Linked DNA regions of Homo sapiens: region 2 is linked to region 1. A link means that fine-mapping ties the variant in region 1 to the expression of a gene that starts in the linked region. Tissue or cell type: whole blood. Region 1 holds a variant in brackets; the other region holds the start of a gene. All regions are shown on one strand. Distances are between the middles of the regions.

Region 1 (5,195 bases):
CATCAGGTTGGCACAATCTGTGGCTATAAACTGGCAATAAGAAATCCTCTCCCAGCCGGGTACGGTGGCTCACGCCTGTAATCCCAGCACTTTGGGAGGCCAAGGTGGGCAGATCACCTGAGGTTGGGAGTTCGAGACCAGCCTGACCAACATGGTGAAACCCCGTCTCTACTAAAAATGCAAAATTAGCCGGGCGTGGTGGCACATGCCTGTAATCCCAGCTACTCGGGAGGCTGAGGCAGGAGAATCACTTGAACCCATGAGGCAGAGGTTGCAGTGAGCCGAGATTGTGCCATTGCACTTCAGCCTGGGCAACAAGAGCGAAACTCTGTCTCAAAAAAAGAAACAAAAAAAAAGAAATCCTCTCCCAGGCTGGGCATGGTGGCTCACATTTGTAATCTCAGCACAGTTTGGGAGGCTGAGGCAGGAGGATCACCTGAAGCCAGGAGTTTGAGACCAGCCTGGGCAACATAGCGAGACCCCATCTCTTAAAAAAAATTTTTTTTAGCCAGGTGTGGGCACATGCCTGTAGTCCCAGCTACTCAGGAGGCTGAGGTGGGAGGATCACTTGAGCCCAGGAGTTCAAGGTTGCAGGGAGCTGTGAATGTGCCACTGCACTCCAGCCTGTGTGAAGACGGAGTCTTGCCCTGTTACCCAGGCTGGAGTGCAGGGGTGCGATCTTGGCTCACTGCAGCTTCCGCCTCTCAGGTTCAAGTGATTCTCCCGCCTCAGCCTCCCGAGTAGCTGGGACTACAGGCATGCGCCACCACGCACGGCTAATGTTTTGTATTTTTAGTAGAGATGGGGTTTCACCATGTTGGCCAGGCTGGTCTCAAACTCCTGACCTCAGGTGATCTGCCTGCCTTGGCCTCCCAAAGTGCTGGGGTTACAGATGTGAGCCACCACACCTGGCCAAGACCCTGTCTTAAAAAAAATTTTTTTTTTTAAAAAGCCTGTCCTGGTGTTCTGGGATAGAGCTATAAAAGCATGCCAGGTTGCTGGCAGGAGCTTGAAGGAGGTGCTGCCTCTGCTTACCAGGAGACCGTCTAGCTGTGAAGTGAGTGGCTGGAAGGAGTGATTGCTGGGTCCCATTCTAGCGATGTCTGTCCTCACCTCCATGCAGAAAAGTAAAGAGAAACCAGAGCCCTGCCAGGGAGTGGCAGAGGCTGGTACTTCTCAGACTCCTGATGTTCATACACATCCCCTGGAATCTCGTTAAAATGTAGATTCTGATTTAATAGGTCTAGGTAGGGCCTGAGGGTCTGCATTTCTAATAAACACCAGGTGGTGTTGATAACACTGACCTATAAGAACATGCTTTAGGAGCAGGTTTTTTAGGCAGGTGCCTTAAAAGTGGGCTGGGGTGGTGAGGGACAGTCTTAGAGAAGAGGGAACCTGGAATTTGGAGCATGGCTGTGAGGAGTCAGACCAAGAAAAAGGGAATGATAGCTACAGAAGTATAGGAGGGAGAAAGCAGGAGGCAGGCCTGGGGGCAATGGCCTGAGGGACAGGTTCATATATAGCTGTGGTCCGTCAGAGGACCCTGCAGGGTACTTGGGAAGTTCAGTTGTCCTAATAGCAGGCTCTGGAGAACCACGTGAAGTTGTAGCTGAAACTGAATTTTTTTTTTTTTGAGATGGAGTTTCGCTCTTGTTGCCCAGGCTGGAGTGCAATGGGGCGATCTTGGCTCACTGCAACCTACGCCTCCTGGGTTCAAGCGATTCTCCTGCCTCGGCCTCCCAAGTAGCTGGGATTACAGGCATGCGCCACCATGCCCAGATATCTAATTTTGTATTTTTAGTAGAGATGGGGTTTCTTCTTGTTGGTCAGGCTGGTCTCGAACTCCCAACCTCAGGTGATCCGCCTGCCTCAGCCTCCCAAAGTGGTGGGATTACAGGCGTGAGCCACTGTGTCCGGTCTGAATTTTTTTTTTTTCTTTGAGATGGAGTCTCGCTCTGTCGCCCAGGCTGGAGTGCAGTGGCACGATCTCAGCTCACTGCAGCCTCCACCTCCCAGGTTCCAGCGATTCTCCTGCCTCAGCCTCCCGAGTAGCTGGGATTACAGGAGTGTGCCACCATGCCCGGCTAATTTTTGTATTTTAGTAGAGACGGGGTTTCGGCATATTGGCTAGGCTGATCTTAAACTCCTGACCTCAGGTGATCTGCCCGCCTCAGCTTCCCAAAGTGCTAGGATTACAGGCGTGAGCCACCGCACCCGGTGAAACTGAAATTTTAAGATAGATCTGGGAATGTCTGAAGCTTGAGAAGCTGATTGTGTTCTGGGAGCACTGCATGGTGCCAGGCTGTTGAGGGTCCAGCTGGCAGAGGGGGCATTGAACTTAGCCCAGGAGTGAGGGAGAGAGATTTCCCAAGATACGCTGACAGAGGAAGGACTCTGCTACAAGCCTGTAGGTTTGCCTGAGTTCCTGATTCTGGCAGTCGTTGACCTGGCAGCTAATCTAATTGGAGCTTGCACAGTCTTGCTAACTGGCTATTGATTACCTGAGGGTTGGAAAATGACGAATGGGGTGGGGAGTGGGTTCCTGCCCGCTCCTACTGTAGCCGAAAGACTGGGTCCTTAGATTCTGTTGTTCTTCTGCTGGAATCACAGGGCAGGACTCTGCAGCTCACAGTGAATGAGTGAGTGAATGAGTGAGTGAGTGAGAGAGAGAG[AGAGT/A]GTGTGTGTGTGTGTGTGTGTGTGTGTGTGTGTTGGAGAGGCACTGCTCAGCCTTTGCTCCCACTACCCTTTACCTGGAGCTGAAAAGCATCAGTTTCCAGCTCCAGAGGCAAATCCTGGCAGGTTCTGGTGGCCCTTATCTGTGACCAGGAGCTTGCCTGACCCCAAAAATCAGATTCTATCACCCGCTGTGGAGAGCTCTGGGTTGGGAGGGATCCGTCTGGGACATTTCCTGGGGGAGGGGTCCTTATCATGAGATCAGGCTCTCTCAGCTGGAGAACATCCAGCAGACCCTCAGGCCCCACAAAACCTGTTGAATCAGAATCTACATTTTAATGAGATTCCAGGGGATGTGCATAAACATCAGGAGTCTGAGAAGTACCAGCCTCTGCCACTCCCTGGCAGAGCCCTGGTTTCTCTTTACTTTTCTGCATGGAGGTGAGGACAGACATCGCTAGAATGGGACCCAGCAATCACTCCTTCCAGCCACTCACTTCACAGCTAGACGGTCTCCTGGTAAGCAGAGGCAGCACCTCCTTCAAGCTCCTGCCAGCAACCTGGCATGCTTTTATAGCTCTATCCCAGGACACTAGGACAGGCATTTTTTGTTATTGTTGTTCTCCTGGCCACTGCCCACCCACAAGCACACCTGCTCACACCTGGGGAAAATGCAAGAGACGTGAAGGCCTGTTCTTCCTATCCCTAGAGGTTGAGATTGCCTGGGGAGAAGGAACTAGAATAGGGAATGGCCATAGAATGAACCCGCATTGGCAGACACATGTGAACACAGGCCTTGGCATAGAGCCACTGGGCCTGGGCAGTCTGGAACATGGACTATGGTGCTCAGGTCAGGTGGTTGGGCCCTGACCCCACCCACTCCAGCCATCTGTCCTATATGTGTAATAGGTGTTTGCCATTAGGAAGGCCATGTAAGTGAGCAAGCCTCTGCCAGGATAACCTGTGAGAGAGAGAGTGTTCCATGATGAGGGGGTTGTTGCTGTGTGAATGAAGGACCTCTGACGCAGCAGCGTTTGGAGGTATGCATTCTTCACCAGCGAGTGTCTCGTGGTGCTTGGTGCCTTTCTAGGGGCACCTTTCCTGTTCCCTGACCCCATAGAGTGCTCTCCCCTGTACACCAGGCCGGGTCTGGTGTGCCTATTTCCTGCAAGCTCTGTCCATGCAGCCCCAGTCCTCTGTCAGGCTCAGTGGCATCCATGGACTTGAATAGAAAGCTTCCTGCAGAAGATGAGTTTTGAGAAGGAGGAGGCCCAGAGAAGGGAGCATTGCTGAGTGCTCCAGAATAAACAGGAGATTGGGAGTGACAGAGCAGAGGTTGAAGAGGCTGGGGCAGGTCTGGTGTTTGTTGTTGGGAGCCCTCTGCACTGTGGGAGGAGCCCTCTGGGTTCTGGGTAATGGAGGAGGAAGGCAGCAGAAAGTGGGAATGGAGCCTGGCAGGAGGAAGGCTAGCTGGAGGCTACTGGAATAATTCCATCCTGTCCTCCTGGGGATGTTTGGGGCAGATCAGGGATCCCAGGGAGTGGGATCCACATGGCATATGTAAGCCACAGTATAGGAGGTGAAGGAGTATGGAGCAGAGTCCTAGCTCTGCAGGAGGGACATCAGCTTGTATGGGCAGACTTGGAGAGGATTCCAGGCTACCCTCTGACCTGGAGAGCATGTGGGGTCCTGCCTACCATCCTGGCACTCCAGATCCCCCAGCCTGAAGCCCATGCCCTAGACCCCACCCCACTCCCTGCACACCACAGGCCTGAGCCATTGCCCCCATTCACTCTCCACACCAAGCTTCTGCCTCAACTGTTCACGCTGCTCCCAGTATCGGTCTTAGTTGTTTCCTTTAGAAATAATGCTGCCTACTGCCATTGTGTGGTGCCCACTAAGTAGCAGACCCAGGGCTGAATGTTCTACACCCCCCATCTCCAATCTATGACAACCCTGCCAGGTGGTACGTAATCCCCCACCTTACAGATGAGGAAACTGAGGATGGTGAGGTTACATAACTTGGCCATGGTCTCCCGACTGGAGGGTGGCACATCTGGGATTTGATTCCAGGCTGTCTTGGCTTCAGAGTTCTTGGCCTGTCTAGTGCTGCAGTCTGCTCTCCCTGGTATGTGTGCCTCAGCACGTTGCTGGTTTCTTGTTTCAGTGCTTTCTGGCTGCTGATCAGTGGACACATCTCTCCTGTCTAGCCTGTAGGGTCCTTGAGGACAGCATGTACATCAATACATATGCTGTCCACTGTCGTGTCCAGGCTTAGTGCACAGTGGTACCTGTATGCTGGGTTGAACTGCAGTATTTATAAGTGATAACTGGTGGGGGAATTTTCTCTTGGCTTCTCCTGAGGGAAGCACCAGTGGCTATTGGTGATGCCCTGGGAAGCGTCCCAAATGTGACTGCTGGCAGGCAGACAGGCTGTGCAGCCAGTGGAGTGCTCCCCTCAAGGGGCCAGACTCCAGGAGGAAGCAGAGAGCCTGCTGGCAATGCGCTTAGGGGGCTGCTGG
Region 2 (5,119 bases), 980 kb before region 1:
CTCCTAACCTCAGATGATCCACCCGCCTCAGCCTCCCAAAGTGCTGGGATTACAGGCGTGAGCCACCGCGCCCGGCCCTAGCTATTCCAATTCTATCCAAAGAACTGGCCCACTACTGTTGATTTAAAGGCCTGCCTGTGCCCCACCCCTGGTCCAAACCCATCTGCCGCTCCCTACTGCCCTTCCTGCCACACTCTTCAATACTTTTCTCCACTTTCCAGCTCAGATCTTTATTCTTGTCACATCGACTTGGAAAGCTTCCTCCCAGTTTCCTCTCTGCTAATGGGGATCCTTCCAGGCCCCACTCTGATGTCCTATCCATGTTCATGCTCTCCCAGTCCCCATCCTCAGCAGTAGACCCTCAATGCCTGGTCTCACTCCCGGGGCTCAGCTCCAACTGACCTTGAAACGCTGAGGAAGGGAGCGCAGAAGCTTGACCTTGATGGACAGACCAATAAGGGTGGCCATGCTGCAGTGCGGAATGGTTGGTGTGAAAGCCACAGCCACTGTACTCTCGGGGTCGCTAACCTGGTTGTGGAGGAGAGATGTCAAGAGTCAACCACCCTCAGCCCAAGGTCCCTCTTCTTAGTTTGTTGTTTTGGGCAAATCATCCAACTTCTATGGGCCTCAGTTTCAACACCCATAAAATAGGCACAACAATCTCCCTCCCCAAAGATACCCTTCGGTGTTCGTGAGCATAGAGCACGCCAGCTCCTGCTGCACAGAAACCTTTCTGACTCTCTGGAACAACTCGCTCCCCTCGGAAGTGACTCACCTGAACCCGCACCTGCTCTACTACGTTCAACTCCTCTAGCGTCAGTGGATGCTCCGGGTCATTGATGGAGCGAATCAGATGTGGGAAGTGAAGGAAAAGGGACTCTGCGCCCTTGCCCACTTAGAACCCTCTGCCAGGAACGCCCTGCTGGGATGCGGCTCCACCAGCTGCTCGATATCACTGCTCCCCCCACCGCAAGCCCCCGGAACCCGCCCGCGCCCAGCAGCGGCGGATATCGAAGATCTCGCGTGCGTCGATGCTGTCGGGAACCTGCTCGTCCTCCTCGCCTGCCGTCACAGGCCGCTCCCCAGAGCGCTGGTAGATGAGGGGGTTGGCATTCTCCAGGAGGCCGCCGCCGACCCCGCCGCCGCCTACCATCGCGGAACCACCACCGCTGATCCTAGCAGGCGTGCGCTTCCGCTCCAACCCGCGCACTTCCGGAGAACGGGAAGGGGGCGTGGCGTGGCGACGGAGTCGCGCGAGGGACACGCCGCGTTGTGGGTTCTCGGCCTGAGGTGCGAGAGAAGCGGTGACCGCGGCCCTGGCTGCTCGGACCCGGGAACATGATGGTCGCTGGAGCAGAAGGCGCTGAGAAGGGACCACGGCGGCGCTGGGTCGTGCGAGCCAGTAGCGGGCTGAAACGTAGAGGCCAGAACCAGGTCTCAGGGGGCACTAAAGGCGGTCGGAGGTAATCCCCACACCGCTTCCTCCTGGAAGTCAGGCTGGCCGGGAGCTCCCGTATCCAGGACGGTTGGTCGCCTCTGGCCTGGCAGGGATCCTAGTGTCTCGGGACCTCCCGGTGACGCGCCTGCCTCCCCTGCTGCACCATAGGCCCGGGAGTACGGCGTCCCCACAGCTTGGACCGGCAGGGGCTCGTGAAATGTTTGTCAAGTGGATAAATGACCATGGCCGTGGTCTCCGCGGGAGGTGAGGAAACTGAAAGCCACCGAGGAAAAGGGGGGCGCTCCTTAAGAAGTGCCGCGGTCACGTGTACGTTTCAAAAGAATGGCGTGACTGAGTAGGGAGGGGACCGCGGAGACCCTCAGACCCTGGACTGTAAGGAGATGAGGGGCCGTGAAGGGGAACCCAGGAAACTGAGTCCTGAAAGCAAGGAGGAACTTCCAGAATGAAGGGCGCCGACACTCCTTCCTGCCTTTGCTCAAGCGGTTCCTTCACCCCGATCAAGTTCCTTCCCATTTCTCCATCTGGGGGATCCTGAACGTGCACATCCTCAGAGAAGCCCTCCTGGGGTCTCCAATTCTAGTTTATTGCCCCCTCCTATCGATCCCCCAGCGCGCTCATCGGGCCTGTGGACAAGGACAGGTTTGAAGAGAGGATTCCCTGGATCGCGGAAGGGCTGCAGGAATGGCACAGCCCCTTCCGAGGATGCCAAAGGAGCCCGGGCAAAGGAAAGTGGCCGTGCCCGGGCCTGCCTACCACTAGATCCCCACCCACCTATGACTGCTCAGTCCCGCTCTCCTACCACACCCACCTTTCCCGGCCCAAGCCAGCGCACCCCGCTGACTCCCTGCCCAGTCCAAACTCCAAGGCTGGGCAAGGCACTGATCCACTGCTGGACAGACCCGGGGCAGCCTCTGGGTGAACAGCAGCGTGTCCGCCGGCAGCGAACCGAGACCAGCGAGCCGACCATGCGGCTGCACAGACTTCGTGCGCGGCTGAGCGCGGTGGCCTGTGGGCTTCTGCTGCTTCTTGTCCGGGGCCAGGGTGAGGCTCCCTCGGAGGGGCGACAGGGACCGGGCTCAGATCTGCCAAATGCTGCGGAGGCAGAACCTGACAGTGCGGGAGGGCAGGCGCCTGGGAGGTAGGAGCTGGTGGAGATGACAGCGTGGAACTCGTGAGCCCCACGCAACGCCTCCCCGCCGCCCAAGGTGGGCTCCTAGAAGCACAGAAAGGGTCGGGCTGGGGGACACCACGGCAAGGAACCAGCGGAGTACAGGGGCCCCAGGAGCGCCGGGACATGCCAGGCCGGGTAGGCAGCCTGGGGTCGGAGTGGGTGAGGGATTGGGGTGTGGGGATTCAGTCCATTTCCCTCTTATGATTGTGGCTGTAGCGGGTGCTGCCGGCCGGTAATAACAGTAATAGCTTCTGGCAGCATCTGGCTCTCAGTGTGTGGCGTCCTTGGCCAGGGGGGATGCCCTGAGCCCTCCAAAGGGGCCTCAGACAAGGATAGTGGTCCTTGGGGAACAGAAGCCCCCAGGCGCCAAATCCTAAAGCAGATCTAAGAGGCCACAGTGGCTGGGTGCGATTGGCTCACTCCTTTAATCCCACCACTTTAGAAGGCCAAGGGAGAGTATCGCTTGTGCCCAGGAGTTGGAGGCCAGCCTGGACAACATAGTGAGACTCGGAGTGTACAAAAAATTGAAAGAAATTAGTGGGCTGTGGTGGTCTGTGACCTGTAGTCCCAGCTACTTGGGAGGCTGAGGTGGGAGATCACTTTAGTAGGGGAGGTTGAGGCTGCAGTGAGCCTTCATCCCACTACTGCACTCCAGCCTGGGTGAAAAAGCAAAAATCTGTCTCCAGAAACAAGAACCAAAGAGCTCGTGGTGTCCCTCATGCCATTTACCTCATCCTGGGCAAGGGCACAACTTGGCTTCCAGGGCAAAGGTGAAGGCTCTGTGTGCCTGCCAGGCTTCTCCAGGCCCTTATCAGAAGCTGGGGGAGTGTTTCGGCCTTTGGTCCTCTCACCCGAAACTCTCCTAAGTGTATGATCTGTCTCTTCCAACCCTTCCCCAATTTAATTTGCGCAGGTGGAGTCCATACTCCCCCCGCCCCATGGTGCACTGCTGCAGGGCTTCCTCCCGTGCCTGCCCTTGACCACATTCTAGAGTTCACCAGGAGCCCAGCAGGAAGATCTGCCTGGCCTCACAGATGGCTACCTTTTAAAATATTTTGGGCCAGGCACAGTGGCTCACACCTGTTATCCCAGCACTTTGAGAGGCAGAGATGGGAGGATCACTTGAGGCTAGGAGTTAGAGACCAGCTTGGGCAACAAGACTTGTCTCTACCAAAAAAAAAAAAAAAAAAAGTCAAGCATGGTGGCAGACAGCTGTACTCCAAGCTACTCAGGAGGCTGTGGCGGGAGGATCTCAAGCCCAGGAGGTGGAGGCTGCAGTGAGCTGTTATCATATTACTGCATTCCAGCCTGGGCAACAGATGGCGACCTTGTCTGACAAATATATATGTATACAAAATTTTGGGTTGGACCCACATTCAGAAAAAATAATTGACAAGCCATAGGAGGGTACAGGTGATGTGTGCCATCCTCTTTTTACCCAACCAGTCCTGGCTTCTCCTCAGGGGCCATCAAAGTCCCCATGGCCCACACTGGAAACTGCTTGTTGACACCGCAGTACACACAGTGCCCAGCAGTTTACACAAGAATAGATGTGTGCACTTGTCCTTGATTTTCATCTAAACAGTCATAAACTCACCCACTTTCTGGAGCCAGGCTTTTCTACAGCTGGGACTACAGGCATGCACCACCACACCCCGCCAATTTATTTCCTGATTTTTTTGCAGAGACAGAGTCCCACTATGGTCCCCAGGCCAGTCACTGTGCTTTTTATATCCCAGCCACAGCCATACTTTTCTCTTGCACCTCTTTTCACCAACATCACTCATGGTTTGGATGATGCTTTCTTTACATGATTTCTTGCCACTTTGGACATGACATCCCTGAGGACAAGAAACTTGCCTGCCCAATTCCCACCATCATCCTACTGTCACATGACCTGGCACACAGTTGAAGGACACTCTAGTCCCATCAAGGGCATGTGACCCTTTGTTTGAAGGTCCTAGGGCTGAATGATGATGCCTGGCCCCAAGGAGCCTCAGCCTGGTGGGATGGAGACAGGCCCAGGAAGCCAGAGCGGGAAGGGAGTGTTACAGGCAGGAAGTTTGTAAAGCCCATGTTTACAGATCAGAGTCCCTTGAGCTAAGATGAGGATGGCAAGGAAGCAGCAATACCAACAGTTGGGAGGGCAGTCGATTGGTCAAACCCAACCGTGATGTCTGTCTCTCTGCCCACAGGCCAGGACTCAGCCAGTCCCATCCGGACCACACACACGGGGCAGGTGCTGGGGAGTCTTGTCCATGTGAAGGGCGCCAATGCCGGGGTCCAAACCTTCCTGGGAATTCCATTTGCCAAGCCACCTCTAGGTCCGCTGCGATTTGCACCCCCTGAGCCCCCTGAATCTTGGAGTGGTGTGAGGGATGGAACCACCCATCCGGCCATGTAAGCTCTCCAAGGGGTCCAGGGAACTCCAGGCCCTGGGGCAGGGGTGGGGGTGCTCTGAGCTCAGCTAGGCTGCAGTTATCATTTCA

Evidence for each region. PIP is the estimated chance that this variant, and not a neighbour inherited with it, causes the effect.
Region 2: it holds the start of CES2, and the variant in region 1 is fine-mapped to the expression of CES2 in whole blood (INTERVAL, PIP 0.93).

The regions. Positions count from the first base shown.
Region 1 is chr16:67,912,534-67,917,728 of GRCh38, forward strand. All of the region lies in intron 2 of PSKH1 (protein serine kinase H1), which reads left to right. Among named protein-coding and RNA genes, the nearest start is that of CTRL, 17 kb to the right of the region's middle. RefSeq lists an enhancer at 3,183-3,706. The variant AGAGT/A (reference allele first, on the strand shown) is at 2,673.
Region 2 is chr16:66,933,212-66,938,330 of GRCh38, forward strand. CES2 (carboxylesterase 2) reads left to right here and starts at 2,305. Exons shown (of 12, transcript NM_001365405.1): 1 at 2,305-2,500; 2 at 4,826-5,030. The coding sequence starts at 2,425. It overlaps CIAO2B (cytosolic iron-sulfur assembly component 2B), which reads right to left and starts at 1,191. Exons shown (of 5, transcript NM_016062.4): 1 at 1,012-1,191; 2 at 776-855; 3 at 403-528. The coding sequence starts at 1,153. RefSeq lists enhancers at 797-846, 877-1,076, 1,915-2,527.